Linked DNA regions of Homo sapiens. The protein of the gene in region 5 purifies or fractionates together with the protein of the main gene of each other region. This does not show direct contact. Each region holds a gene or a part of one and is shown on either strand. Other genes may lie near its edges.

The links.
Region 1: the proteins of STK32C (region 5) and NUP188 purify together in Homo sapiens (affinity purification with mass spectrometry; one large-scale study listed by BioGRID and IntAct). This does not show direct contact.
Region 2: the proteins of STK32C (region 5) and SFXN4 purify together in Homo sapiens (affinity purification with mass spectrometry; one large-scale study listed by BioGRID and IntAct). This does not show direct contact.
Region 3: the proteins of STK32C (region 5) and GPAT4 purify together in Homo sapiens (affinity purification with mass spectrometry; one large-scale study listed by BioGRID and IntAct). This does not show direct contact.
Region 4: the proteins of STK32C (region 5) and GLUD1 purify together in Homo sapiens (affinity purification with mass spectrometry; one large-scale study listed by BioGRID and IntAct). This does not show direct contact.
Region 6: the proteins of STK32C (region 5) and CDKAL1 purify together in Homo sapiens (affinity purification with mass spectrometry; one large-scale study listed by BioGRID and IntAct). This does not show direct contact.
Region 7: the proteins of STK32C (region 5) and GCN1 purify together in Homo sapiens (affinity purification with mass spectrometry; one large-scale study listed by BioGRID and IntAct). This does not show direct contact.

Annotation. Positions count from the first base shown.
Region 1 is NC_000009.12:129,003,199-129,006,698, reverse strand, and holds part of NUP188 (nucleoporin NUP188), read right to left. Parts: intron 3,383-3,500; coding exon 3,245-3,382; intron 1,553-3,244; coding exon 1,478-1,552; exon of another isoform or gene 1,402-1,477; intron 1,397-1,401; coding exon 1,169-1,396; intron 1,055-1,168; coding exon 923-1,054; intron 650-922; coding exon 576-649; intron 461-575; coding exon 331-460; intron 220-330; exon of another isoform or gene 198-219; coding exon 21-197; 3' UTR 1-20. UniProt on the Homo sapiens protein: Component of the nuclear pore complex (NPC), a complex required for the trafficking across the nuclear envelope. Required for proper protein transport into the nucleus.
Region 2 is NC_000010.11:119,152,215-119,155,714, reverse strand, and holds part of SFXN4 (sideroflexin-4), read left to right. Parts: intron 1-537; coding exon 538-653; intron 654-3,500. UniProt on the Homo sapiens protein: Mitochondrial amino-acid transporter. Does not act as a serine transporter: not able to mediate transport of serine into mitochondria.
Region 3 is NC_000008.11:41,576,812-41,580,999, forward strand, and holds the start of GPAT4 (glycerol-3-phosphate acyltransferase 4 isoform 1 precursor), read left to right. Parts: upstream 1-1,388; 5' UTR 1,389-1,467; intron 1,468-1,494; exon of another isoform or gene 1,495-1,557; intron 1,558-1,704; exon of another isoform or gene 1,705-1,769; intron 1,770-4,188. UniProt on the Homo sapiens protein: Converts glycerol-3-phosphate to 1-acyl-sn-glycerol-3-phosphate (lysophosphatidic acid or LPA) by incorporating an acyl moiety at the sn-1 position of the glycerol backbone. Active against both saturated and unsaturated long-chain fatty acyl-CoAs.
Region 4 is NC_000010.11:87,070,844-87,074,343, reverse strand, and holds part of GLUD1 (glutamate dehydrogenase 1, mitochondrial isoform a precursor), read left to right. Parts: intron 1-3,500. UniProt on the Homo sapiens protein: Mitochondrial glutamate dehydrogenase that catalyzes the conversion of L-glutamate into alpha-ketoglutarate. Plays a key role in glutamine anaplerosis by producing alpha-ketoglutarate, an important intermediate in the tricarboxylic acid cycle.
Region 5 is NC_000010.11:132,210,472-132,213,950, reverse strand, and holds part of STK32C (serine/threonine-protein kinase 32C), read left to right. Parts: intron 1-3,479.
Region 6 is NC_000006.12:21,195,457-21,198,956, forward strand, and holds part of CDKAL1 (threonylcarbamoyladenosine tRNA methylthiotransferase), read left to right. Parts: intron 1-2,564; coding exon 2,565-2,648; intron 2,649-3,500. UniProt on the Homo sapiens protein: Catalyzes the methylthiolation of N6-threonylcarbamoyladenosine (t(6)A), leading to the formation of 2-methylthio-N6-threonylcarbamoyladenosine (ms(2)t(6)A) at position 37 in tRNAs that read codons beginning with adenine.
Region 7 is NC_000012.12:120,188,216-120,191,715, forward strand, and holds part of GCN1 (stalled ribosome sensor GCN1), read right to left. Parts: intron 2,186-3,500; coding exon 2,083-2,185; intron 1-2,082. UniProt on the Homo sapiens protein: Ribosome collision sensor that plays a key role in the RNF14-RNF25 translation quality control pathway, a pathway that takes place when a ribosome has stalled during translation, and which promotes ubiquitination and degradation of translation factors on stalled ribosomes.

The DNA.
Region 1 (3,500 bases), on a different chromosome or scaffold from region 5:
GTGGGCAGAACAGCACTGCCCTATCTTTGCATATGCCGGACAAACGCCTGCACCAACTGGATCAGAGGCTCCTGACTCTCAGGGCTGGCTTTGGAGAGAGAGGTGGACTTGCCCTGCGGCGAGGGGAGGACACCAGTGGCAGGGGAGCTGGGGGCTCCCCGGCGGAAGTAGCGCGAGAGGCTGGACAGCAGCGTGCTCTACAAGAAAAAAAGTGGCTTGGTGAGGCTCAGCACATCTGGCTACTGTTCTGACCCTTGGGGGTTGCCAGGCAGGACCCCACAGGGCTCTGGCCCTATTGGTCCAGCCCTCCGTATCCCTATCCATCCGTACCAACTCAGAGCTGAGCTCCTGCTTCATCCGCTGTTTGTCCCGGGGGTGCACAGCCGGGTCCCTAAGGTACCGCATCGCCTGAGAGATGAGCAGGTAGAAGCAGTTTTCCATGGTAAACATCAGGAGGGACCTGGGAGGAGACACAGGTTTTTGGTACTGCTGCAGAGGGCCAGGCTGGCCAAGCTTGAGAACAGTGGGCCCATGACTGCCCCAGCCCCTTATCAAATCCCAGAAAGAGCACTTACTTTAACGTCCTGGTCCCTTCTGCCTGTGTGCTGAGCCCCACTGCCTGGGTGAGGGGCTCCTTTTTCTTGTCCAGCTGAAGAGAAGCAAGGGTAAAAAACTAAGACAACAGGAACAGCTCCCACTTACTGAGAGCTTCCTACTTGCATGTCCTGCACTAAGCAAATTTAATCAGTTACCTCATTTAATCCTCACAGTAATTCTCAGAGGTGCTGTCATGTTCAGTTTACAGAGAGGAGCAGGCTTGGGAGGCTAGGTACCATGCCCAACATGCCCAAGGTCAGCTGGGAAGTGGCAGGCAGGGGGAGGAGCCGGGGGGAGAGGACAGTGTCTGACAGAACCAACTTACCTCTCCAAGCATGTTGAGGGCCACATTCACTGTGGCCAGAAGGGTCCCGAAGGAGGGGGCCACTTCGGAGTCAAAGGTGGGAGTGGTAAAGCTCAGGGCAAACAGGAAGTTGTATTCAGCAAGGTCCAGGGACTGCGAGAAAAGACAAGAGCCATCCAGGACCCAATTAAGGCCCCAGGTAGCTCTCGGTACACAGCAGAGCAGAGCCTTTAGGGGAGGTGGTGCTGAACAGATGATGGGCAGTACCTGATCCAGCAGAATCTGGCAGACATCTGGGGTGAAGTGGCGCAGGGCTGCCAGCGTCTTGCTGAGGATCTTGAGAAGGCCATACTGGACTGTGTGCAAGGCCTGCTGCTCTGATGCCTCTGTGTCAGCAGCGGGCTGCTTTGAGGAGGAGGGGGCAGCAGAAGCAGCAGACGGTGGCCTCTGGACTCGCTGGGCAACAGCTGAGGGGAGGCCATCCCCATTTTTGTTCTAAGGAGAGTCAAGAAATGAAGGTGGAGCTTGGGAAGCTAGCGTGAGGTATTCCAGGACCTCATGGCATAGGACGCTTACCTGTAAGTAATGCTGCAGCATCTTTCGACTGTGCAGGAGAGAGGTACATGCCTGGCACAAGTAACCCAGGTTGACCTGGGAGAGACACAGGAGAGATGAGCGGATTCTCTTGTCAGCAGCCCAGTCACCCAACCAGACCAACCCAATAGCCCTCCATGTAACACCCATGCGCTCCTCACTCGCTGCTGCTCTTCTCTCCCTCCTTCCCTCATGCTCCCCTTCTCTCCCTCCTTCCCTCATGCTCCCCTTCTCTCCCTCCTTCCCTCATGCTCCCCTGGCCACTTTCCAGCTTAAAGCCCCTATAGCCACTAAGTACTCAGGGCTACAAACTTGGGCCAGCAGGGCTCAGGACTGGACTGTCTCCCTGAGACCCAGCTAGGTGCCTGGTATATTGTAAGGTCCTAAAGTAAAGAAGATGAGGCCGGGTGCGGTGGCTCATGCCTGTAATCCCAGCACTTTTGAGGTCGAGGCAGGCGCATCACGAGGTCAGCAGATCGAGACCATCCTGGCTAACACGGTGAAACCCTGTCTCTACTAAAAATACAAAAAATTAGCCGGGCGTGGTGGCGGGCGCCTGTAGTCCCAGCTACTCGGGAGGCTGAGGCAGGAGAATGGCGTGAACCCGGGAGGCGGAGCTTGCAGTGAGCCGAGATGGCACCACTGCACTCCAGCCTGGGCGACAGAGCAAAACTCTGTCTCAAAATAAATAAATAAATAAAATAAGATGAGGATTATGGCTGATTCCATTTTATAGGAAAAGAATAAAAGGTTACAAGTAACAAGTGACTTGGCCAAGGTCATACAACCAGCAGATAAGAGAAGCCTGCCTGGCTCTGGAGCCTGTGTTCCTTCCTCACCCCTCCCTTCTCCAGCTGGTTCCCAGCTCCAGTTGTGTGTGTTTTTTTGGTTTTGTTTAGTTTAGTTTTTTTTTTTTTTTTTTGAGACGGAGTCTCACTTTGTCACCAGGCTGGAGTGCAGTGGCGTGACCTCGGCTCACTGCAACCTCCACCTCCTGAGTTCAAGCGATTCTCCTGCCTCAGCCTCCCGATCCTGAGTAGCTGGGACTACAGGCGTGTGCCACCACACCCAGCTAATTTTTGTTATTTTTAGTAGAGATGGGGTTTCACCATGTTGGCCAGCCTGGTCTCGAGCTCCTGACCTCATGATCCTCCCGCCTTGAATTCCCAAAGTGCTGGGATTACAGGCGTGAGCCTATTGCACCCGGCCATTTTTTTTTTTTTTTCTTTTTGGGACGGAGTCTCGCTCTGTCACCCAGGCTGGAGTGTAATGGTTCGATCCTAGCTCACTGCAACCTCCGCCTCCCAGGTTCAAGCGATTCTCCCAACTCAGCCTCCCGAGTAGCTGGGATTACAGTCACGTGCCACCACGCCCAGCTAATTTTTGTATTTTTAGTAGAGACAGGGTTTCACCATGTTGGCCAGGCTGATCTCGAACTCCTGACTGCCTCCCAAAGTGCTAGGATTACAGGCGTGAGCCACCATGCCCGGCCCCAAGTGTATTCTTAAGGGATCTGAACCAAGATCTAACTGATAAAAGTCCAAATTCTTAACCTACATGGCTGCCCTTGACTATGGAAGGAAACATTTAGCCAGAGTAAGCACATGACAGCAAACCCTGTGCTCCCCAAGGGAAAAGCCCCCGTTCAGGAACATCCTGCAATTCACTAGGAGTGCCCCAGTGAGACCTCACAGCCTCCCTGTCTCCAAGCATTACCCCAGACTCCAAGACACCATCTTGGGCCCCCACCTGGATATCACGCATGAGCTGAGGCAGGTGGAAGTGCCACTCCTTCATGAAGTTAGAGAGCTGCAGAATAAAACCCACGGTGTGGTCCGCCTCCTCCAGGCAGGCCAGACTCTGCACTGTCCTCACTGCGTTGAGGCACTGGGAGGAAAGCACACATCAGGGAAAGATGGGGATGGCTGAGGGACCTGACATACCCACACCTACCCTCCTGTGGAGAGGCAACGTCCCAGGCCCCCAAATGCTGAGTTGGCAAAGA
Region 2 (3,500 bases), about 13 Mb from region 5:
TTGAGACCAGCCTGACCAACATGATGAAACCCCGTCTCTACTAAAAATACAAAAATTAGCCGGGCGTGGTGGGGCATGCCTGTAATGCCAGCTACTCTGGAGGCTGAGGCAGGAGAATTGCTTGAACCCGGGAGGCGGAGGTTGCAGTGAGCTGAGATCACACCATTGCACTCCAGCCTGGGCAACAAGAGTGAAACTCTGTCTGAAAAAAAAAACTTAAGCAAAGACGAGGGAGGAATATGTTTCCAAGATCCCAGGGTTTCTCCTAGAATCCGGTAAGGAAGCAGGGGTGCTGGAAGCTGGTCCCAGGCTGTGGTCAGGATCCAAGACTGAGTGGCCAGCAGTTCTTAGCCTACTTCCACAGCCCCAGGAGAGCACTTGGTTGGCCCAGCCTATGGCAGGTGTCCACCTGAGGGTCAAGAAAGGCCAGCTGTCAGAGAAAGAGGCTTGCAGGGGGCAGACACCCAAAGAGATGTTCCTTTGCTGGAACAAGACTCACCCCCGTCTTGGGTGTTCTTTACTTCTTTACATCTACAGTGCAAGCCAGTGGAATGAATGTCTACATGTCCCGAAGTCTTGAATCCATTAAGGGGATTGCGGTCATGGACAAGGAAGGCAATGTCCTGGGTCATTCCAGAATTGCTGGGACAAAGGTAAGAGACAGGATGAAGCTATAGCTGCTTGCCTTTTGGGCAACGACTAGACTTTTCTGTTTGAAAGCCGGTGACAAATTCATGTCTGCCTTCAACCTTTCTTTACCCGTCTTTCCTTAGCATGCTGAGAGAGAAATTTCTCATTTTGCCCCCTGATAAGATGGGGCATTAGTCTGGGTTCTCTGGAGAAACAGAACCAATGGGATATATGTACATAATCTTTCTTTCTGAGACAGGGTCTTGCTCTGTCGCACTGGCCTGGAGTGCAATGGTGCAGTCTTGGCTCACTGCAACCTCTGCCTCCCTAACACAAGCGGTCCTCCCACCTCAGCCTCTCAAGTAGCTGGGACCACAGGCACACACCACTGCACCTGGCTTATTTTTGTATTTTTAATAGAGACGGGGTTTCACCATGTTGGCCAGGCTGGTCTCGAACTCCTGGCCTCAAGTGATCCACCCACCTCGGTCTCCCAAAGTGCTAGGATTACAGGCATGAGCCACCATGCCTGGCCCCCAATTCCTTTTTGAAATCTCTCAAAAGAAAAGCATGCACCTCTGTCTCCATTGTCCCTCCCATTCACTCCTGAGTTCAAGTGATCCTCCCACCGTGGCCTCCCAAAGTGCTGGGATTACAGGTGTGCACCACCGCACCTGGGCAGTACATGTCTATTAGGAGATTTGTTCTAAGGAATTGGCTTACACAATTGTGGGAATCTGCAGGGCAGGCCTGGAGGCTGGAAACTTGGACAGGAGCTGCTGCTACAGCCTTGAGACAGAATTTCTTCTTTGGGAAACCTCAGTTTTTGCCTATAAGGCCTCTAACTGATTGGATGAGGCCCACCCACATTGTGGAGGGTAACCTTCTTTTCTTTTTTTTTTTTTTTGAGACGGAGTCTTGCCCTGTCACCCAGGCTGGAGTGCAATGGCGTGATCTCAGCTCACTGCAACCTCCGCTTCCTGGGTTCAAGCGATTCTCCTCCCTCAGCCTCCTGAGTAGCTGGGATTACAGGTGCGTACCACCACGCCCAGCCAATTTTTGTATTTTTAGTAGAGGTGGGGTTTCACCGTATTGGCCAGGCTGGTCTCAAACTCCTGACCTCAGGTGTTCCGCCCGCCTCGGCCTCCCAACGTACGGGGATTACAGGTGTGAGCCACCGCGCCTGGTGGTAACCTGCTTTTCTTAAAGTGAGCTGATTGCAGACGTGCCCTGTGTCTGCAGAGTACCCCTACAGCAACAGCTAGATGAGTGCTGGATTAAATAACTGGGTACTGTTGCCATGGTGACCCGTGAGGCTGACTGCCACAGACAGGCATCTGACAAGTGCTGGGTACCTCTGAGAGTGAGATCCTATTCTTCAAATCCAATATCTGCCCTCCCAGTGTGTGCTGATTGGGGGCCACTCCCCTCCCAGCCTGCTCTGCACTTACAGAGGTCAGTGGACACCCCTTTCTGGGGTTAAAAGAGCCCCTGCTTCTCCCATTCAGCAGATGTCCTTATAGTCTTCATTGCTAAGGACTACTTTTGTCAAGAATGGACTTAGAACATTGAATTCTCTGATCCAAAACTCCTTTTCAAGGCCTCAATTCTGAATAATTTTTACTATTAGTTTCTTCTTTTTCTTCTTCTTTCTTTTTCTTTTCTTTCTTTTTTTTTTTTTTGAGACAGGGTCTCCTTCTGTCGCTGGAGTGCAATGGTGTGATCACGGCTCTACAGCCTCAACCTCCCAGGCTCAGGTGATTCTCTCACCTCAGCCTTCCAAGTAGCTGGGATTCTAAATATGCACCACCATGCCTGGCTCATGCTTGTGCTTTTTATAGACATGGGGTTTCGCCATGTTGCCCAGTCGTGTCTCAAACTCCTGAGCTCAAGTGATCTGCCCACCTTGGCCTCCCAAAGTGCTGGGATTGCAGGGGTGAGCCACTGGGCCTGGCCAAAGTATTCTTTTGTTCAGTTCAACACAGTGACTACTGAGTGCATTCAGCCGTGAGAACCTGGTATAGTCTATGGTCTTTTCATTTTGGGTGTGGACTTTTAAAATAATATGTTTTTAGCAGGTGAGATCTTTTTTGGTCCCTGTGAAATGACTTTAGCTGAAGACTTTAGTTGTTTGCAAATGACATATCAAGCAGAGTGGAACAGCCCTGATATGAAGTGAAGGGACTAACCGGGCTTCTGGCAGTGTGGGATCCAGAGGACTCCCTTAGCCAGCCAGGGTATGTCCTTCTACTGACCAGCATGTTGGTGGCAGGGAAGCTCAGAAAAGATGGTTGTTCATTCCATCGGTAAATACGTCATTATTCAGCTCACCAAACATATTACTTTAAATCCTATCACTGACTGACAAAGCTGAATTATAAACTATCAGATACATGCTAATGGTATTTCCACTAGACCATCTAGTAGCATAGCTCCTTACCTAAATGAATTATGACAGAGATAAAATAATTATAAGTAACAGAGAAATTGCTGCCAGTAAGAAAATAGGTCACTAGTTTGAAATGAAGGTTCTGGGCCTAACAAACCACCCGTAAGTTGGATCACTTGCAGTCGGTCAGGAGTTCGAGACCAGCCTGGCCAACATGGTGAAACCCTGTGTCTACTAAAAAGGCAAAAATTAGCTGGGCATGGTGGCGGGTGCCTGTAATCCCAGCTACTCGGGAGGCTGAGGCAGGAGAATTGCCTGAACCTGAGAGGTGGAGGTTGCAGTGAGCCGAAGTCGTGCCATTGCACTCCAGCCTGGGCGACAGAACAAGACCCCATCTCAAAAATAACAAACAAACAAAAACCACCTGGGACTGCATTTGCGCTTTCCCCTGGGGAAAAAAAAAAACGCCCGAAAGAGACAT
Region 3 (4,188 bases), on a different chromosome or scaffold from region 5:
TTTTTTTTTTTTTTTTTGAGTTTGGGTCTCGCTCTGTCACACAGGCTGGAGTATAGTGCCACAATCTCAGTTCACTGCAACATCTGCCTCCTGGGTTCATGCAATTCTCCTGTCTCAGCCTCCCGAGTAGCTGGGATTACAGGTGCGTGCCATCACCCCCGGCTAAATTTTGTATTTTTAGTAGAGACGGGGTTTCACCATGTTGGCCAGGCTGGTCTCAAACTCCTGGCCTTAAGTGATCTGTCCGCCTCTGCCTCCCAAAGTGCTGGGATTACAGGCGTGAGCTACCCGCGCCCCGCTCCCCCCACCATTTTTTTTTAATTTTCAAAATTTTTGTAGAAGTGGGGGTCTCGTTACGTTGCCCCGGCTAGTCTCAAACTCCTGGCCTCAAGCGATCCTCCTGCTTTGGCCTCCCAAAACGCTGGGATTACTGGCGTGAACTACCATACTCTGCCCTTTATTCTTACAGAGATTTTGAGGTCTAAGAATGTGGACTTTAAAGATTTCATTATCAGATTATGCATTTAGCACGGAATGACAATCTGACAGCCGTGTACAGCGTAAACCGGCGGAGAGGGCTTGGCACTAAAGGCAAACTGTCTTTTAAGAACAGGAAAAAGAAAGGTAATATATATTTTAAGGAGGTCCCATTTTAGGGGAGATAATAAGCTTGGGTTAGGCGTCCGAAGTCAGAAGATATAGTAAGAAACACACACGCAAACTCCAGCAGCCACCAGCTAGACTTGAGTAGAGAGAGCAGGTCCAAGTGGAGGTGGAAGTTGGAAAGTTGCATCTGCCAGGCAGGGCGAAAGTGGCCTACACCCACTCCTGGAGCACCCTGCTTGACGAGCAAGGTAGACGAGGCTGAGGGATACTGCTGGTGATGACGGTGGTCGTGGTGATGGTGCTGGTAGCTAACAGATCTTGAGCGTACCAGGCCCTGAGCTGAGTCCTCTAACGGGCAGAATGTCGCTGCATACGGACAGCAGCCTCAAGAGGACAAGGTGATTTAGTGACTCTAGCCTCTTCCCGCGGTGCCAGCCTGATTTCACCCTCTCCGGAACACACAAGCGAACCTCCGGGGAGGGAGCCAGTATCGGGTCCTAACGCAGGGAAGCGCTCCGCTTTCTGAGAGGGACGCGCCAGCGGAGGGACAGCCAGGGCCCGGCCTCTCCTGCTCCTGCCCCGCCCCGCCCCCGGCAGTGCCCCCTAGTCCGCCAGAGGGCGACTCCGCGGGTCGCCCAACCCGCGACCGGTCCACGCGGCACCCGCCTCTCCCTAGGCCCCCGCCCTGCCGGCCCGCGCGCGCCCGACGGGAGCGTGCGGGGCGGTGGGCGCAGGGTCACGTTGGGCGGCGCAGACAAAGGCGGGCGCGCGCACGTCCTGACGCAGCTTGGGCCCGCGGCGGCGGCAAGGGCGGGAGGGAGCGGTCGCCGCGGGATTTGGAGCTGCCTAGCCTCGCGGTCGGTGAGTAGGAGGGAGCTGGCCCCTTACCTCAAAGTCTCCGACCTCCGGGGAGCCGAGAGCGGGACGTGGGAGCCGGGCTTGGGCGGCCGCGCGGGGCCTGCGGTCTGGGACGCCCCGGCGACGCTGCGCCGGCGTCAGGAGGCACCATCGCCGCGCCCCGGGGATCCCCGGCGGGTGGAGCGGGTGCCCCCCGTCCGGGATGGAACGGTCCGCGCCCGCCCCGAACCCCGGCCGCCCGCCTCTCCGCTCGCCTGCTCTCCGAGCCCGGCTCCTCGGAGCCCCTCGCCTCCCCCAAGTCCCAGGTGTGCGCAGCCCTCCCGCCCCGGGAGTCCGGGGATGTGGGTGGCGAGGGCTGCTGGGCGTTGGAGCACCAGGAAGCGCCTTCCCCTGTCATTCCCCTTCCTGTGTTCTCTGGCTGCCGTAAGATGCATGTCTTTACCCTCTCCTTCTCCAAATGCATGCTCCCATTTTTCTTTAGGATTTCTTAACTCCTGAAATCCCTTGCCTTTCCTTTTTTATTTCAGCACCCTCTGAGGCATCCTTCTCCCAGTGGGGCTTGTTTATTTCCTCGCTTTCCATGTCACAGAGGGCTGAAGTTTAGCTGTTCAGAAGTTGCAGAAAATAGCTTATAGGAGACATACGGTGTAGCACGATGGAAATAAGTTCCATCCTCTGCCAAGTATTACCATGGATCTTCTCATGGATAACCTTGAGGTCATTTGAGGAATTTTGTTTTTGGTTCATTTTCCTTAATTTTGGCTGAACTTTGAGGAGCTCTCCTTAGTTTCATGTCTTGTAGATTCTATCTCAATCCAAGGGAAATGGTGTGAAGAGCAGTTATACCATACCAAAGTCTCCAGACAAAATCCTGTAATAATGCCAATCAAATATACTTCTCTCTTTGAAAGAGATGTGCTTTTCTTTTCTTTTTTAACTTTGTATTTTGGAGAATTTCAGACACAGGGAAATAGATGGAATAGGGAACCAGCATGTACTTGTTCTGGCCTCCTCAGCCACTTAACTGTGGCTATTCCTGTGCCATACACACCCCACCCATTTCCCCTCCCGTATGTCTCAGGGAGAACTTGATGCAAGATGAGTCTGTCAAAAGTAGCTTCAGTTCCATAATGAAAACCACCATACCAAGTCATAAGGTGCTTTTTGTTTTGGAACACAGCCTACTCATGAGGTCTTCAGCTAAGAAACACAGTAGAGTTGAAGAAAGAGCACAGCAAAAGGTATCTTAACATGATAGAACAGGTTAAAAGAAAAAGTATGGCCGGGCGTGGTGACTCACGCCGGTAATCCCAGCACTTTGGGAGGCCGAGGCGGGCGGATCACCTAAAGTCAGGAGTTCAAGACCAGCCTGGCCAACATGGTGAAACCCTGCATATACTAAAAATACAAAAATTAGCCGGACGTGGTGGCAAGTACTTGTATTCCCAGCTACTCGGGAGGCTGAGGCCGGAGAATCGCTTGAACCCAGGAGGCAGAGGTTGCAGTGAGCCAAGATTGCGCCGCTGCACTCCAGCCTGGGCGACAGAGCGAGACTCGTGTCAAAAAAAAAAAGAAAAGAAAAAAAGTGTTTCAGATCTGGATGAGAACATTCGGAACGTCCTGTTCAATGTTTTCATTTTTTTCTGAGCCCTTGGAGGTCCAGAGAAGTTCAGTGACTTGTCCAGAGCTGCAGGTCTTAAGAGGCTGAAATCTCGCCTCTGCCTCGAGGCTGCGGTTCCACTGACCCATACTACTTGCCTTCAGGAAAGAGAAATGGTGTAGGAAGGCTGTGGATGAAGACGCTTACATTCATGAAGGATTTGGATAGGCGAACATGAGCTTTTCCACCAAATTTCAGAATTTTAAGAAATGCCTTAAATTATTTCTTAAAAATCAATTTGGGGCAGACGAGAAGTTCTGATAATAGTTTTTAGGGAACATGATAAAATTCTGACCTTAGAAGTGGTATACCAGTTTGAGAAGAAGAACAAGCTATAAACGGTGTAGATAACATTCACGGCTATTTAAGAAAGAGTTACTAAGGGAAACCAGAATGACTTAAGAGTGTTACTCTTCTTTTTCTGAGAGAACAATAGCATCATCTCAGAAAGCCTTTCATGCCATTAATAGGTAAGAATCTGGGCTTCTTGGACCATGGGTTAGACTTTCTTACAAAACCATAATATGCATTTCCTAGCAAAATTTATGCTATTACATTTCCTTATCTCAACAAAGACTGGTAAATTCAGTACTTATTCCTCAATTTTCCTACCCTTAAAATGGGGATATTCTGCCTCTCCAAGGAATGCTGGGAACAAGCAAGTCCTCATGTTAGGGGTCTTTGAGTTTTCATGGAAGTTTAGGTTATTTATATGATGACATAGTTGTCAACTTACTTTCAGGATGGACTTTTCTTTTGTGAGTTTGTGACCTAAATACAATAGTTGTTATGCATGTCCAGTTTATGGAAGTACCACTGCAATAACAGCATTTGAGTGTCATGGTAAATCATTACCCCTAAAGATAGAGGAGGGAGGAGGAGGCAACTGTTGTGTGTCTATTTTGTGTTTGGTGTGAGGAGTGTTGTGGCTAGGCTCTTCAGAGGCTAGCCTAACTTGCTAAGTGGTTTCTGCTAAAGAAAAACCCACTTTTCTTGTGTGTGCTTGTCACCACAAGTTAGCTTTTATTAAAAACAAAACAAAACTCTCTAAGCTATCTGGAGAT
Region 4 (3,500 bases), about 45 Mb from region 5:
TTTTTACTGGAGATGGGGCTTTGCCATGTTGGTCAGGCTGGGCTTGAACTCCTGACATCAGGTGATCCACCCATCTCGGACTCCCAAACTGCTGGTATTACAGATAGGAGCCACTGTGCCCGGCCTCCTACTATTTGTTATAGGAGCTTTTGCCAAACATACAACATTTCTGAAGATATTAATCTTTGTTTGCTTGATGTTTTTGTATCTTACTATTATCTGTGTTTATATTTTCTTTGTGCACAATCTGAATATTCTTTTTATGATATGTAAGTATTTGTCATGTACCCTTTAATTTTCAAGCAGTTTAAACCTATATTTTTTTTAATCTAGAAGGCTTCTAATTTGTTTGAATAGAATATGCATAACTACTTAATAGAATGCTTGCCCTATCAGTATAGTTAATAGAATGTTAATACTTACTGCCGAGCGTGGTGGCTCACACCTGTAATCCCAGCACTTTGAGAGGCCGAGGCAGGTGGATCACGAGGTCAGATCGAGACCATTCTGGCTAACGGGGTTTAGTAGGAATCCCATCTCTACTAAAAACACAAAAAATTTGCCAGGCGTGGTCGCGAGTGCCTGTAGTCCCAGCTACTCAGGAGGCTGAGACAGGAGAATGGTGTGAACCTGGGAAGCAGAGCTTCCAGTGAGCCAAGATCACGCCACTACACCCCAGCCTGGGCAACAGAGCGAGACTCCGTCTCAAAAAAAAAAAAAAAAAAAAAAAAAAGAATGTTAATTGTTACTTAATAATAGAATACTTGTCCTATCAATATCAGTATAGTTAAACAAAATAAGGTCTACTTAAATAGAAAATAAAGTGTATTTTTCTCTACTTTCCTTTCTTAGCATTTCCCCCACAAGTTCCCATGAAATTAAACTATAAAGGCTGGGCATGGTGGCTGGTGCTTGTAATCCCAGCATTTTTGGAGGCTGAGGTGGGAGGATCACTTGAGCCCAGAAGTTCGAGACCACCCTGGGCAATATTACAAGACCCCATCTCTACAAAAAATGAAAACATTATCCAAGCGTGATGGTGCATGCCTGTGGTCCCAACTACTAAGATGGGAGGATCCCTTAAGCCTGGGGGGTTGAGGCTGCAGTGAGCTATGATTGTGCCACTGCACTCTGGCCTGCCACACTCTGGCCTGAGCAACAAAACGAGACCACATCTCAAGAAGAAAGAGAAATGAAATAAAGCTATTCGGATTCATTTTTAGGAAAAAAAAGTCATGAAATAAATGTCATGAAATAACCTAATATAGAAATACAGTAAGTATAGGTAACTCTAAAACTTGACTAGATTTGGCCTGTCTTTGATAATAAAAGGCATTTGGGCCTTTGATGTGCCGCATACCCAGCACTACTGTGAACTTGTGCATCCTTACATGGAGTCTGTTAACGTAAGTTAATATGAGTTAACTATCTCGCTCACACTTTTATAGGAGTGCCTACTGATTCTGAGATATGGTGAATTGAAGTCATCTTCAGCCTGTTAATAGCCTTCATAATTTTTAAAAGGTCTTTCCTCTTCCCCTAAATCTCAAACACATTTTATAGTCTTGAATGGTTTCAGACTTTATTCAGTCATATTTGTCACCCATATCTGCAATATCTCCAGCTTAATTTTATCAGACTTGACAAGTACCTAATAATTCCAAAGGTCAAAAAGTGATTCATTGGAATACTGAAAGAAAACACAGCTTAAACTCTAGTAATTTGATTTATTTGCTTAATGTGCAAAAGCCTCATTGACCCAGGATGCAGTTAAATTGACGTCTTGGCCCAGAAAGCTTTGAAGCCTAGGAGGTAGGCAAAGGGAGTTTTTTCTCTCACTCCTCGGCAAACCTTCAAATTTGATGTTATTTATCTGTTATTTCCTGACTGCCCATTCCACAGAGAGTGTCAGATTGAGGCTCAGACCTGAGCCTGAACCCTGATCCTGTCACATGTGTGTTTAGCATCAGCTTGTAAATTTCTGCAAAACAAAAGAAAAAAAGAGGCTGGGATTTTTATAGGAATTTCATTGAATCTGTACACTAATTTGTGGAGTATTGCCATCTTCCCCACCCTCCCCAAAAAGGTTTTGTCCTTTCACCCAGGCTGGAGTACCAGACAGCAGTCACTGCAACCTTGACCTCCTGGGCTCAAGCAATCCTCTCACCTCACCCTCCCAAGTAGCTAGAACCACAGGGGTGTGCAACTGTGCCTAGCTAATTTTTTAATTTTTTGTGGAGACACGGTCTCATCACGTATCCCAGACTGGTCTCAAACTCCTGAGCTCAAGCAGTCTTCCCACCTCAGCTTCCCAAAATTCTGGGATTATAGGCATGAGCCACTGCACCTGACCAGTATTGCCATCTTAACCATATTAAGCCTTCCAATGCTGAATATGAGATGTCTTTCCATTTATTTAGGTCTCTTGATTTCTTTCAATGATGTTTTGTAGTTCTCATTGTAGAAGTCTTACATAGAAGTCTTACAACTAAATATTTTACTCCTTTTAATGCTATTGTAAGTGACATTGGTCTATAGTTTTCTTATGATGTCTTTGTCTAGTCTTTGTATCAGGACAATTCTAGCCTCATGGAATGAGTTGAGGAGTGTTCCTTCCTCTTCTGCTTTTGGAAAAGCTTTTGAAAGGTCAATGTTCATTCTCTTGTGTGAGTGTAAATATCACCTAAGTTCTGCAGGACCCTGATGTCTCCACCCTTCTCATCCCCTTATATCTCTGTGTACCAAAATTACCCTTTCATCTCCTACTCTATAGTCACATGCTGTTAGAAAAGTTGCTTTTTTAAAAAAGATTAACTTCTGCCTCATACCTGTTCTCTATATAAGAATTTATCTGTTAGGCCAAGCATGGTGGCTCATGCCTGTAATCCCAGCACTTTGGGAGGCTGAGGCGGGTGGATCACCTGAGGTCAGGAGTTCGAGACCAGCCTGGCCAACATGGTAAAACCCCGTCTCTACTAAAAATAAAAAAAAATTAGCCAGGCAGGTACCTGTAATCCCAGCTACTCAGGAGGCTGAGGCAGGAGAATTGCTTGAACCTGGAAGGCGGAGGTTGCAGTGAGCCGAGATCATGCCATTGTACTCCAGCCTGGGCAGCAAGAGTGTAACTCCTTCTCAAAACATAAAAATTAAAAAAAAACAAAAAGAATATATCTGTTATTCAGGAACTACTTGTTTTTTGTTTTTGTTTTTGTTTTGAGACAGAGTCTTGCTGTGTCACCCAGGCTGGAGTGTAGTGGCACGATCTCAGCTCACTGCAAGCTCCGCCTCCCGGGTTCACGCCATTCTCCTGCCTCAGCCTCCCAAGAAGCTGGGACTACAGGCGCCCGCCACCACGCCCGGCTAATTTTTTGTATTTTTAGTAGAGACAGGGTTTCACTGTGTTAGCCAGGATGGTCTCGATCTCCTGACCTTGTGATCCACTCACCTCGGCCTCCCAAAGTGCTAGGATTACAGGCATGAGCACCGCACCCGGCCTCAGG
Region 5 (3,479 bases):
TTCTGTTGACATTTCTTCAAGCTCATAGATCCTTCCTCATCTGGATCCAGTCTACTGAGGAACCATCAAAGGCATCCTCATTTCTGTTACAGTGTTTTCTACTTCCAGCATTTCCTTTTGATCCCTCCTTGGAGTTTCCATCTCTCTACTTACATTGCCCTTCTGTTCCCCATCTGTTCTTGCCTGCTTTTCCCCTGGAGCCCTTGCCATATTAATCACAGTTATTTCAAATTTCCTGTTTGATAATTCCAACATGGGTGCCATATCTGGATCTGTTCTAATGTGTGCATTGTCTCTTCACACTCTATTTTTTTCCTTAAGACCTTGTAGTCTGCCTTGTAATGTTTGTTGAAAGCTGGACGTGATGTATCTGGTAATAAGAGCTGAAGTAGATGGGCCTTTAGTGTGAGGTTTATGTAATCTGGCCAGGTTTGGGGCAGGGTTTAAAGTCTGCTGTAGCTGTGGGCACCAGAGGCTTCACATTTGTTTTCATTTCCCGGGTTGCCCTTGGGCTTGCCTAAATCCTCCTCCTCAGAGAGAGTCTGCGTCTTGTGGCCCTCTCTGCTGGAATCCCTGTCACACTGCGGAGGCCCTGTGGGTGTGTTGGGAAGATGGTGGGGAGGGAACTGTTCCACAGTCTGTGACCAAATCTCAGTCTTGGGGGCCTGTGCCCCTTCACAGTTGTTGATCTGCTTTTCCCCTCCCCTTAGGTGAGACAGGCTAAAGCGGGGTACAGGCTGAAAAACAGTCCTCCCCCAAGTGAGATAAGCCTTTCCTTTGGAGAGCAAATTCCATTTGCTGTGGAGAATGCTCTGGGTGTATTTCACAGTGGTGACTGTCCCCATCCCATGCCAGAGCCAGGAAGGGATCATCCTTGGCTTCATTAAGACCTGGCAGGGTTCCTGGAGGGGAAACCCACAAAACGTTGGGGGCCTCATAAGACCGCAGCCGCAGGAGTTCTGCACACGGCCCCGGCCGCTCCCCAGAGCTGCCCAGGAGGTGTTCCCACACACCATCAGTTCTGCTCCAGGCCAGCAGGTCTCAGCTGTGACTTTGCTCACCTGTCTCTCCAGACTTGGGGGTCGCCGCAGCGCTTTGACCTCAGCTCTCTGATAGGTCCAGGAAAAGTCATTGATTTTCATTAGTTCAGCATTTTTCCTGTCGCAGGGATGGGAGTGAGGCCTTCCACGTTGTTTACCGCAGAGCAGAAGCCAGAAGTCCTTGCTCGTCTCTGTGTTTCTTCGTCGGAGTCATGTCTTTTATTTCCTGAACGCAGGTGTGTGGTCAGACAGGAGATTGGCAGGTATTTCCTCCTGTTCCATGGGCTATCTTTTCTCTTTCTTGAGGGCATCATTTGCAGCAGGGAAGTCTTGGACCTTGACGTTGTCCGATGTGGCTGTTTCCTCCTTGGCTGCTCTGCTTTGTCTAAGGATCCATCACCTCAGCTGAGGCCACAGGGATTTACTCCCACACTTTCTTCTAAGTCTTGTATAGTTTCAGCTCTTGCGTTTAGCTGTGTGATTCATTTTGGGTTAATTTTTATGAACAATGTCAGGTGAGGGTCCAGCTTCATTCTCTCATCGGTGGATATCTGACTGTCCTAGCACCATTTGCTGAAGAGAGGATTCTTTCCCCATTGAATTGCTTTTGACATCATACCTTGTTTTTTGACTTGCCGTTTTATCCCATTGGTCCAGACGTCTGCCCTGCGCCGGGACTGCACCATCTTGATAACTGTAGCTTTGTAGCAAGCTTTCAAATCAGGATCTGTGAATCCCCCAGTTTTGTTCTTTTTGGACATTATTTGACTGTTCTGGGTCCCTGGCATTTCCACTGAATGCTGAGGGGTCTGACAGTTGCATCTGAGCTGCCAAGCAGGTTTGTGGCGGTGCTAGGGACTGAAGCCTGCTCCATTTCCCAGGCCCCTCCTCGCTGTGGGTGACATCTGGGGTCCGAGGCTGTGTCTCAGCATGTGTGAAGGTGCCACAGGTGCCCTGAGATGGGGATTCCTGGTCCAGTTACTCAGAAAGTGCATCCAGGAGAGACCCCCGCCCTTCTCGGGATGGGAGATGCCAGCAGAGCTTGGCTTTCAAGCAGAAATCTGGAAATCCTGTGGGGAGTGGCTTCGGACTTCAGGGGACCTGGAGCGTCACTTGCGGTTCAAGAGGTCCCTGCCCTGAGGGAGCTGGGCTCTCAAACACCCACACCAGTCAGTCATGGGCGAAGGGCCCCTCTGTGGCCTTCTGACTGTGTGTGTGCTGGCAAAGGGTTCCAGCCACCCAAGGAGGAGGCAGGGGCTGTCAGAGGAAGAGCAGGGCAGATCCAGGCCAGGCACAGACCCTGCCATGGGGTACTGCTGGCGGCGCTACACACACCTTGGGAAGGGAGTCCCTGTGGAAAGGGGTCGTGGTCACACATCTAGGTGACACAGCCCGGCTTGGGCGCTGCTCAGAGCCACCCCTTCCAGATGGTTCTGGAGCAGCTCCTCAGGCTTCTGGTGGCCTCTCTGCCTAGGAAAACATGGCTGTGGACGTTGCAGGATGACCAACAGCCCCTGCCACTGGGCTGCACACAGGGCCACGACGGGCGCTCATGTTCTGCATCACTGGCGCCCACCCCAGCCCCTCCCACCTTGTGTCGCTGTGAATCGCAGGATCCCAGCGGCTCAGTCGGACCCTCATTCCTGAGTAGTCTGAGCCTTAGGTCACCGTCACCTTCTCAGGCCGGCCCGAGTTTGCAGACTTGTCTGTCTATATCAGGGTTAGACCAGAGAGTGCTGAGACACAGCAGATCACCCAGCCTGTCCTCTTCTTGATGACTAAGGACAGGTCCCCTGCCAGGATCGTGACTCCTTTAGGGGAGGCCACAGTGACAGGGCAAAGCCTGGAGGGAGAGAGCCACATGGAGAGGAGAGGGCTGCCCGCAGAGAGCGTGGGAGTCTGCCGGCTTCTTCTCGAGTCCTTGGCAAGGTGCTGGCCGCTCACACCGTGTACGTGTGGGGAATGCCCAGGACCAGGGTGACACCACCAGGAGGAGCGGGCGGGACAGTCCCCACTCAGGGCTAGGAAGAGAGAGTCCACATTCCCGCTGCCAGGGTGAAACCCTCACACCACCACAGATCCAGGAGAGACACGGAGGGCACTGCCTCGGGGTGGGGAACGTGAGCTGCTCCCCAAACCCAAGAAATGTGTTGAGCCCTATGCTTCCTTCCTCGTGGGAAGAGGCGCAAGGTGAGACCGCTTGTCCTTTATCTTGGCGGGCACGTCCGAGTGTGACGCACGTCAGCAAATCCCTGAACCGTTCATCGGAGAACAGCCTTCTGCATCTCCCACACTCTGTTCGTGGGTTTACAGGGTGTCCAGAGTACTTGCCACTTGGCAATCAGCATTAATAGGATCCACAGGGCCAGGCATGGTGGCTCACGCCTGTAATCTCAGCACTTTGGGAGGCCGAAGCAGGCGGAGCACCTGAGGTCAGGA
Region 6 (3,500 bases), on a different chromosome or scaffold from region 5:
CTGGCCTCTGGAGATGTTTTTTTTATTTATTTATTTATTTATTTATTTATTTATTTATTTATTTATTTATTTGAGACAGGGTCTTATTCAGTCACCAATGCTGGAATGCAGTAGAATGATCACAACTCACTGCACCCTCAATCTGCCAGGCCCAAGCAATCCTTCCACTTCAGCCTCTCGTGTAGCTGGGACTATAGGCACACACCACCACACTCGGCTAATTTCTGTATTTTTTATAGAGACGGGGTTTTGCCATGTTACCCAGGCGGTCTCAAACTCCTGGACTCAAGTGATCTGCCCACCTCTGCCTCCCAAAGTGCTGGGATTACAGGCATGAGCCACCGGGCCCGGCCACTCTGGAGATTTTTAAGGGCCTTGCCAATGAGACTGGGGACACAAATAGGATGACTCCTCAGTTGAGGACACAAATAGGATGACTGAAAAGGTGTTTGCCACTATGAATTAGTGCACATTGCGGTTCTCCTGAGTCTCTTTGGCAAATAATAGTTAAATACTCACCTACAAATAGTTCTCTTATGGTTGATTAAAAGCCCAGCTTTCTACTATATAAACATAGCAAGTCTTTTTAACTCTGTATATATTACTGTCATTGTTATCATCTCCAGATGAAATAGAGCAGCCCAAACATGATGGGCCTTACTCTCCACGTTGATTCTAAGAAGAAGAAAGAAGCAGCATAGTTTTCAGTGGCTCTACAATTTCACATTGTTGTTAATTTCCTGAAAACTTGATGTTAAATGAAGTGTAATTGCAGATTTCCTTAAGAACCATTGACAGATACTTATCCTAAGTCATAAGCAACTCACACTGTGAAATGTGTGCAAACATTCTAAGTTTTCTTCTAGAAGAATATACTTCAGTGATACCCAATATTCACCAGCCCTTTTTGATAAACAGAGCCATTGAAGCTCAACATGGAAGTTGGGGGAAATTTCTTTTTTTACACTTGATTTTTTTAAGGGGATTAATGTTGCCAGAACTTCCATTGTTTTTCAGACAGTGAAAAGAGTCTTTAGTAAGTGTCATCTCAGAGACCTTACAACTTTTGGCTAAGAGGGCTATATTTTGAATGAGATAGTAAACTAGATAGTAAATTATGGTGTATTTAGGTACTGGCATTGTATGATAGAGAGGGGAGTTTGATTTGTTTTTTAATTGTTAGGTGGTCTATTTAGTGCAGCTGTGTTTATGTTTCCTTCATGGTAACCGCCTGAACATGGTGACAAGTCCCTACAAATGAGAATAGGAATTTTAAAAAATTATCTTGCCAGTGGGCTTTAATTTGGGGGGGTCATAATTATTAAGTAGCATTGGTAAAAATAATCCCCGGCACAGTCATTCAGTACAGTTGTTTTGCTGTATCAGACATTTTGACAACCTTGTAAAAAGAGTAACTGAGTCCAGGCATGGTGGCTCATGCCTGAAATCCCAGCACTTTGGGATGCCGAGGCAGGCGGATCACCTGAGGTCAGGAGTTCGAGACCAGCCTGGCCAACATGGCAAAACCCCGTCTCTACTAAAAATATAAAAATTAGCCGGGCATAGTGGCGCATGCCTGTAATCCCAGCTACTCGGGAGGCTGAGGCAGAAGAATCGTTTGAACCCGGGAGGCGGAATTTGCAGTGAGCCAAGATCATGCCACTGAACTCTAGCCTGGGTGACAGAGTGAGACTCTGTCTCAAAAAAAAAAAATAATAATAATAATAATACTTGATACCTTAAGTGCTGCATTTCACAGTAGAATAAACTTGGAAATTATAGAATTTCCTTAGAATAGTCACACTTCTTTACCCATTGTTTTGGCTGATTTACTTCTTTGCTATTAAAAATGGGTGCCTAGATCATAATGTACATCAATTCTGTGGAAAATTAGCAATTCCATGTTTTTGCTGTCTTTCTCTTTAAAAAATAATAAATGAACATGGGGTCATGACTGCAGCAAAGAGACAGTTGCCTGTGACAGAGAAAATGTATATAATAAGTAAATAGCTCTGTGAATTACTCAGTACTTTCAGAATTGTATGTAAGATATGAAATGTGGAGGTGCAAGGTCCTAATGACTAGTTTTCCGAGGCATTTTCTTTAGTGTTACATCCCTCATAACTCAAATGAATGTTTATTACTATTCTTTCATATTGCCAAAATATTTTCATGAATTTGGATTAGAAGCAGCTTGTTCTGGCTTGTTTTGCAACTTTGTTTCAGGAAACAAAGTGATATTTAGAAGATTTTTGTATGTCATAGAAGCTTTAATTATCTTACTTATGTTGAAGGAGATCAAATTCTGTTTCAGAGTTATGTAAGAAAATAAGAGTTTATACTATGCTAATTTTATGTTGCCAGATAATTAATGTCTTTCAAAAAATTTGAATCCGTGATTTGAACAGGGTTCGCTGTTAAATAACCAGCAATGTAGAGTCTACTTTAAATTCAAGAAGACGCTACTTGGTCCAGACCTACCTGGGCTAGCCTTTATTTTTATTTTTGGATTCACAGGTGTTTACCCTTATCTTTCCTTTCTTTCCCTCCCCTTCTCTCCACAGATTGGTGAAAGACAACAAGTGTTAGTAACAGAAGAATCTTTTGATTCCAAGTTTTATGTTGCACACAATCAATTCTATGAGCAGGTAAGAGGCACTTCAGTATTCTTGAGTTTTCTCCAAAGTGAGAAAGAGTTCTGAAAGTTTAAGCAAAGGGCATTTAAAGGGGAGAGTGTTGAATCTTGTCACAACAAGGCTGTTTTATCGCTTCAAGCCAGCCAGGCTAACATGGACTTTATCTTTGTGACTTACTCTACAATATGTTCTGTACAAAGGAATAGGTGTATTTAGTCTATTTTAGTTCACATTAATCTTTGACAGGACCAGCTTTAGGCTTTTGGGCGTTTGGAACCAGGCAATTAGCACTGCCAGAATTCCCACACCCTGGCAAAGCAGGGGGGAAAGTCCTGCTCAGACCACAGGAAGGATGTCTGCATGGGCGACAGCAGCATGAAAGGGCAGGGATTTCCTCTCGCTGGTACATCACCCGGACAGTTTTTTTAGTTGGTTGGTTGATTGGTTGGTTGGTTGGTTGGTTTTTTAGTTTTGTTTAGTTTTAGCATCTGTTTTTTTAACTTCTACCTTAATAAAAATGCTGGGAGCAGAGGAAAAGGAGTCTATTCCTTGGACTCAACTCTAATTGTATGAACAACTGTGCAGACCAGTGTGAGGATCAAACCAGCTTCACTGTGAGAGCTTTGAAGGCCATCCCTAGGGGCGCCCCCAATTACTAGCCCTCCTTCCCTGGCCATCTAAGTTGGCCTGCCTTTGCCCACCGAGGAGCCTGACTTCTGTTTCAGCATCAGGGTTTCTACTCCTCCAGGTGGGAGAGCAATTCAAAAGTGACTGAGGAAAAGAGAGTGCCTCTTTCAGGGTCATTGACCCTGGCAAGGGCCAAGGCCAGGGAAGAGATGGGATACGCCCTCCTCTCCCATCTTA
Region 7 (3,500 bases), on a different chromosome or scaffold from region 5:
CTGAGATCAGGAGTTCAAGACCAGACTGGCCAACATGGTGAAACCCCATCTCTACTAAAAATACAAATATTAGCTGGGCGTGGTAGCAGGTGCCTGTAATCCCAGCTACTTGGGAGGCTGAGGCAGGAGAATCACTTGAACCCGGGAGGCGGAGGTTGCAGTGAGCAGAGGTCGCGCCACAGCACTCCAGCCTGGGTGACAGAGGGAGACTCTGTCTCACCAAAGAAAAAAAAAAAAAAAAAACCTCTCCCAACTTATTTGATCTTGGAATCCTTTATTGGCCAATCACCTACTACCATGGTGCTGACTTCCACGGAACACAGATTGGGAAAAATGATATCCCAAGTCATAAAAAAAATGTTTTTGGCTGGGCGCGGTGGCTCACACCTGTAATTCCAGCACTTTGGGAGGATCACAAGGTCAGGAGATCGAGACCATCCTGGCTAACACGGTGAAACCCTGTCTCTACTAAATATACAAAAAATTAGACAGGTGTGGTGGTGGGCACCTGTAGTCCCAGCTACTCCAGAGGCTGAGGCAGAAGAATGATATGAACCCGGGAAGCAGAGCGTGCAGTGAGCTGAGATCATGCCACTGCACTCCAGCCTGGGCAACACAGTGAGACTCCGTCTCAAAAAAAAAAAAAAAAGTTTTTGTACTCTGTATACTACTTGAGAAAGGTTTTAGCTATCTTTTTTAAATATTTCCAAACAAAATGGTTAAAAGTGTAAATAGCTTTCACACCTGAATGGATAAACTCTCCATGAACCCAAAAGTTTTAACTGTTGCAATTCACACTATAGCAAGGAAATAAAGTAAAGGCAGAAGTTGTGCAGGGAGGGGGGAAGAAGGCCATGGTTCCTTTTTTATTTGAGACGGAGTCTTGCTCTGTCGCCCAGGCTGGAGTGCAGTAGCACGATCTCAGCTCACTGCAACCTCCACTGCCTCCCAGGTTGAAGCGATTCTCCTGCCTCAGCCTCCTGAGTAGCTAGGATTACAGGCGTGCGTCACCATGCTCAGCTAATTTTTGTGTTTTCAGTAGAGACAGGGTTTCACCATGTTGGTCAGGCTGGTCTCGAACTCCTGACCTCGTGATCCACTCGCCTCGGCCTCCCAAACTGTTGGGATTACAGGCGTGAGCCACCACACCCAGGCTTTTTTTTTTTTTTTTGAGTCTCACTCTGTTGCCCAGGCTAGAGTGCAGTGGCATAATCTCGGCTCACTGCAACCTCCACCTCCCAGGTTCAAGCAATTCTCCTGCCTCAGCCTCCCTAGTAGCTGGGATTACAGGTGCACACCACCACACCTGGCTAATTTTTGTACTTTTTTTTTTAATAGAGACGGGGTTTCACCATGTTGGCCAGGATGGTCTCAAACTCCTGACCTTGTGATCTGTTGACCTCAGCCTCCCAAAGTGCTGGGATTACAGGCGTGAGCCACCGTGCCTGGCCAAGGCCATGGTTCTAAAGAAAGGCAATTTCAGCTGGGCCCAGTGGCTCGTGCCTGTAACCCCGGCATTTTGAGAGGCTGAGGCAGGCGGATCACTTAAGATCAGGAGTTCAGGACCAGCCTGGCCAACATGGTGAAACCCCATCTCTACTAAAAACACGAAAATTAGCTGGGTGTGGTGGCGCACACCTGTAATCCCAGCTACTGGAGAGGCTAAGGCATGAGAATCGCCTGAACCCAGCGAGGCAGAGGTTGTAGTGAGCCGAGAGCGTGCCACTGCACTCCAGCCTGGGTGACATCGTGAGACTCTGTCTCAAAAAGAAGAAAAAAACACAAAAAAAACCACAAAATTTATTTTTGATATGGAACACTGTCATTCGAGAAACCCCATCTCTACTAAAAATACAAAAATTAGGCAGGCATGATATGGGCACCTGTAATCCCAGCTACTCGGGAGGCTGAGGGCAGGAAAATCGCTTGAACCCAGGAGGTGGAGGTTGCAATGAGCTGAGATCGTGCCATTGCACTTCAGCCAGGGCAACAGTGAGAGACTCTGTCTCAAAAAAAAAAAAAAAAAAGAAAGAAAGAAAAACAATGAATATTGTCCAGGGTATGTGGATGAAAAATAAATACCTTTTCCAGCAACACACTTCCCAAGTTCACTGAGGATTTCTCTCCGTTCCTTTACACTGGCTGTTGTCACCTTCCCTGCAAAACGCTTTAGTGTCTCGGAAACCTGTGAAGGCCAAGCAACAGAAAAATTCACTAGTCAGACTATAAAACTATGAGTGTGTGTGTTGAGGGGTGGGTGTAGAATTTGGGGATCTCTCTAACCTGGGGTTTCTCAACCTCCCCACTGGTGACATTTTGCACCGGGTAATTCTGGTTGTGGGGGCCGTGTTTTTAGCAGCATTCCAGGTCTCTACCCACTCGATGTCAGTAGCAGCCCACCTTCCCCACCCGCCCCAGTTGTGACATTGTCAAATGTCTCCTGGCAGGCAAAATCACTCCCACTTGAGATGTACTGCTTTAATTCAACTAGTCAACAAATCAATATACCTTATTTAAACTTTGGCAATAAGAGGAAAGGCAAAGACCTCTGAAAAGAAAATATCCCTTCAGAACTACCCAAAATCTAGCAAGGGCCTGGTACGTGCCAACTATGTTCCCTTTACATTATCTCACTTTAACCTCCCCATAAAGGGAATGTCAGCATCCTGGCAACTCACTGGCAGAGGATAAGCACACTGGCTAAAGGGGGAAAGGTTAGGAGATTGGATCCCAGCTCTGCCTTTTACTAGCTGTAGAAACTTAGTCAAATAATGTCACTCCCCCAATCTTCAGTTTTCTCATCTATAAGATGCGGACAATAGCAGCTACCTCATATGACTGTTATGGAGCTTAAATGAGATTGCGTATAAGGTGCATCTACTCTCATCCCAAGCAAAAAGTTGGCTACTACTACCAAAAAGCCTGCAAGGGAGGCATCAGTATCCCCATTTTATAGGCGATGAAGAAACCATCTCCAAGAGAGGAAGTCACTGCTCAGAGTGGGGTCGAGAGCCACAGCACCTGCGTTTTTGAAACTAACTTTGAAACCAAACAGGTCTATAAACTGATGCTAACAAATCTTTAGCTTTCAACAGCCATCGAGTTACCACAGCTGCAGTCCCCTGCATAGGGACATAAGCATAAGACCCAGTGATGGGGGGCAGTTTGCAAACATCCCTGAAAATCTGCTCTTGAGCAATATTCTACAAGCTACCAAGTGGACAGGTTGTGGATTCATAAGCCGTAGAGCAGGGCATGATAAGGCTCATGTAACTTAACACAGTGGGGTTATCATGTTTTTCTTTTGAGGGTATTTCAAAGGCAGGCCTTATCAGTAGCGTAAGAGTCAAGCGTACACACAGAAATAAAATAATGCTGAGTTTTTCGTGCTTAAATCCCTGCCATAATTCTATTGGCAATGAATAAAAGAAACTGATGTCCAAAACTGTCTTCTACATAAATAATGTAGTTTTAACTTTAAAATGTCTTTTGTTTTTATA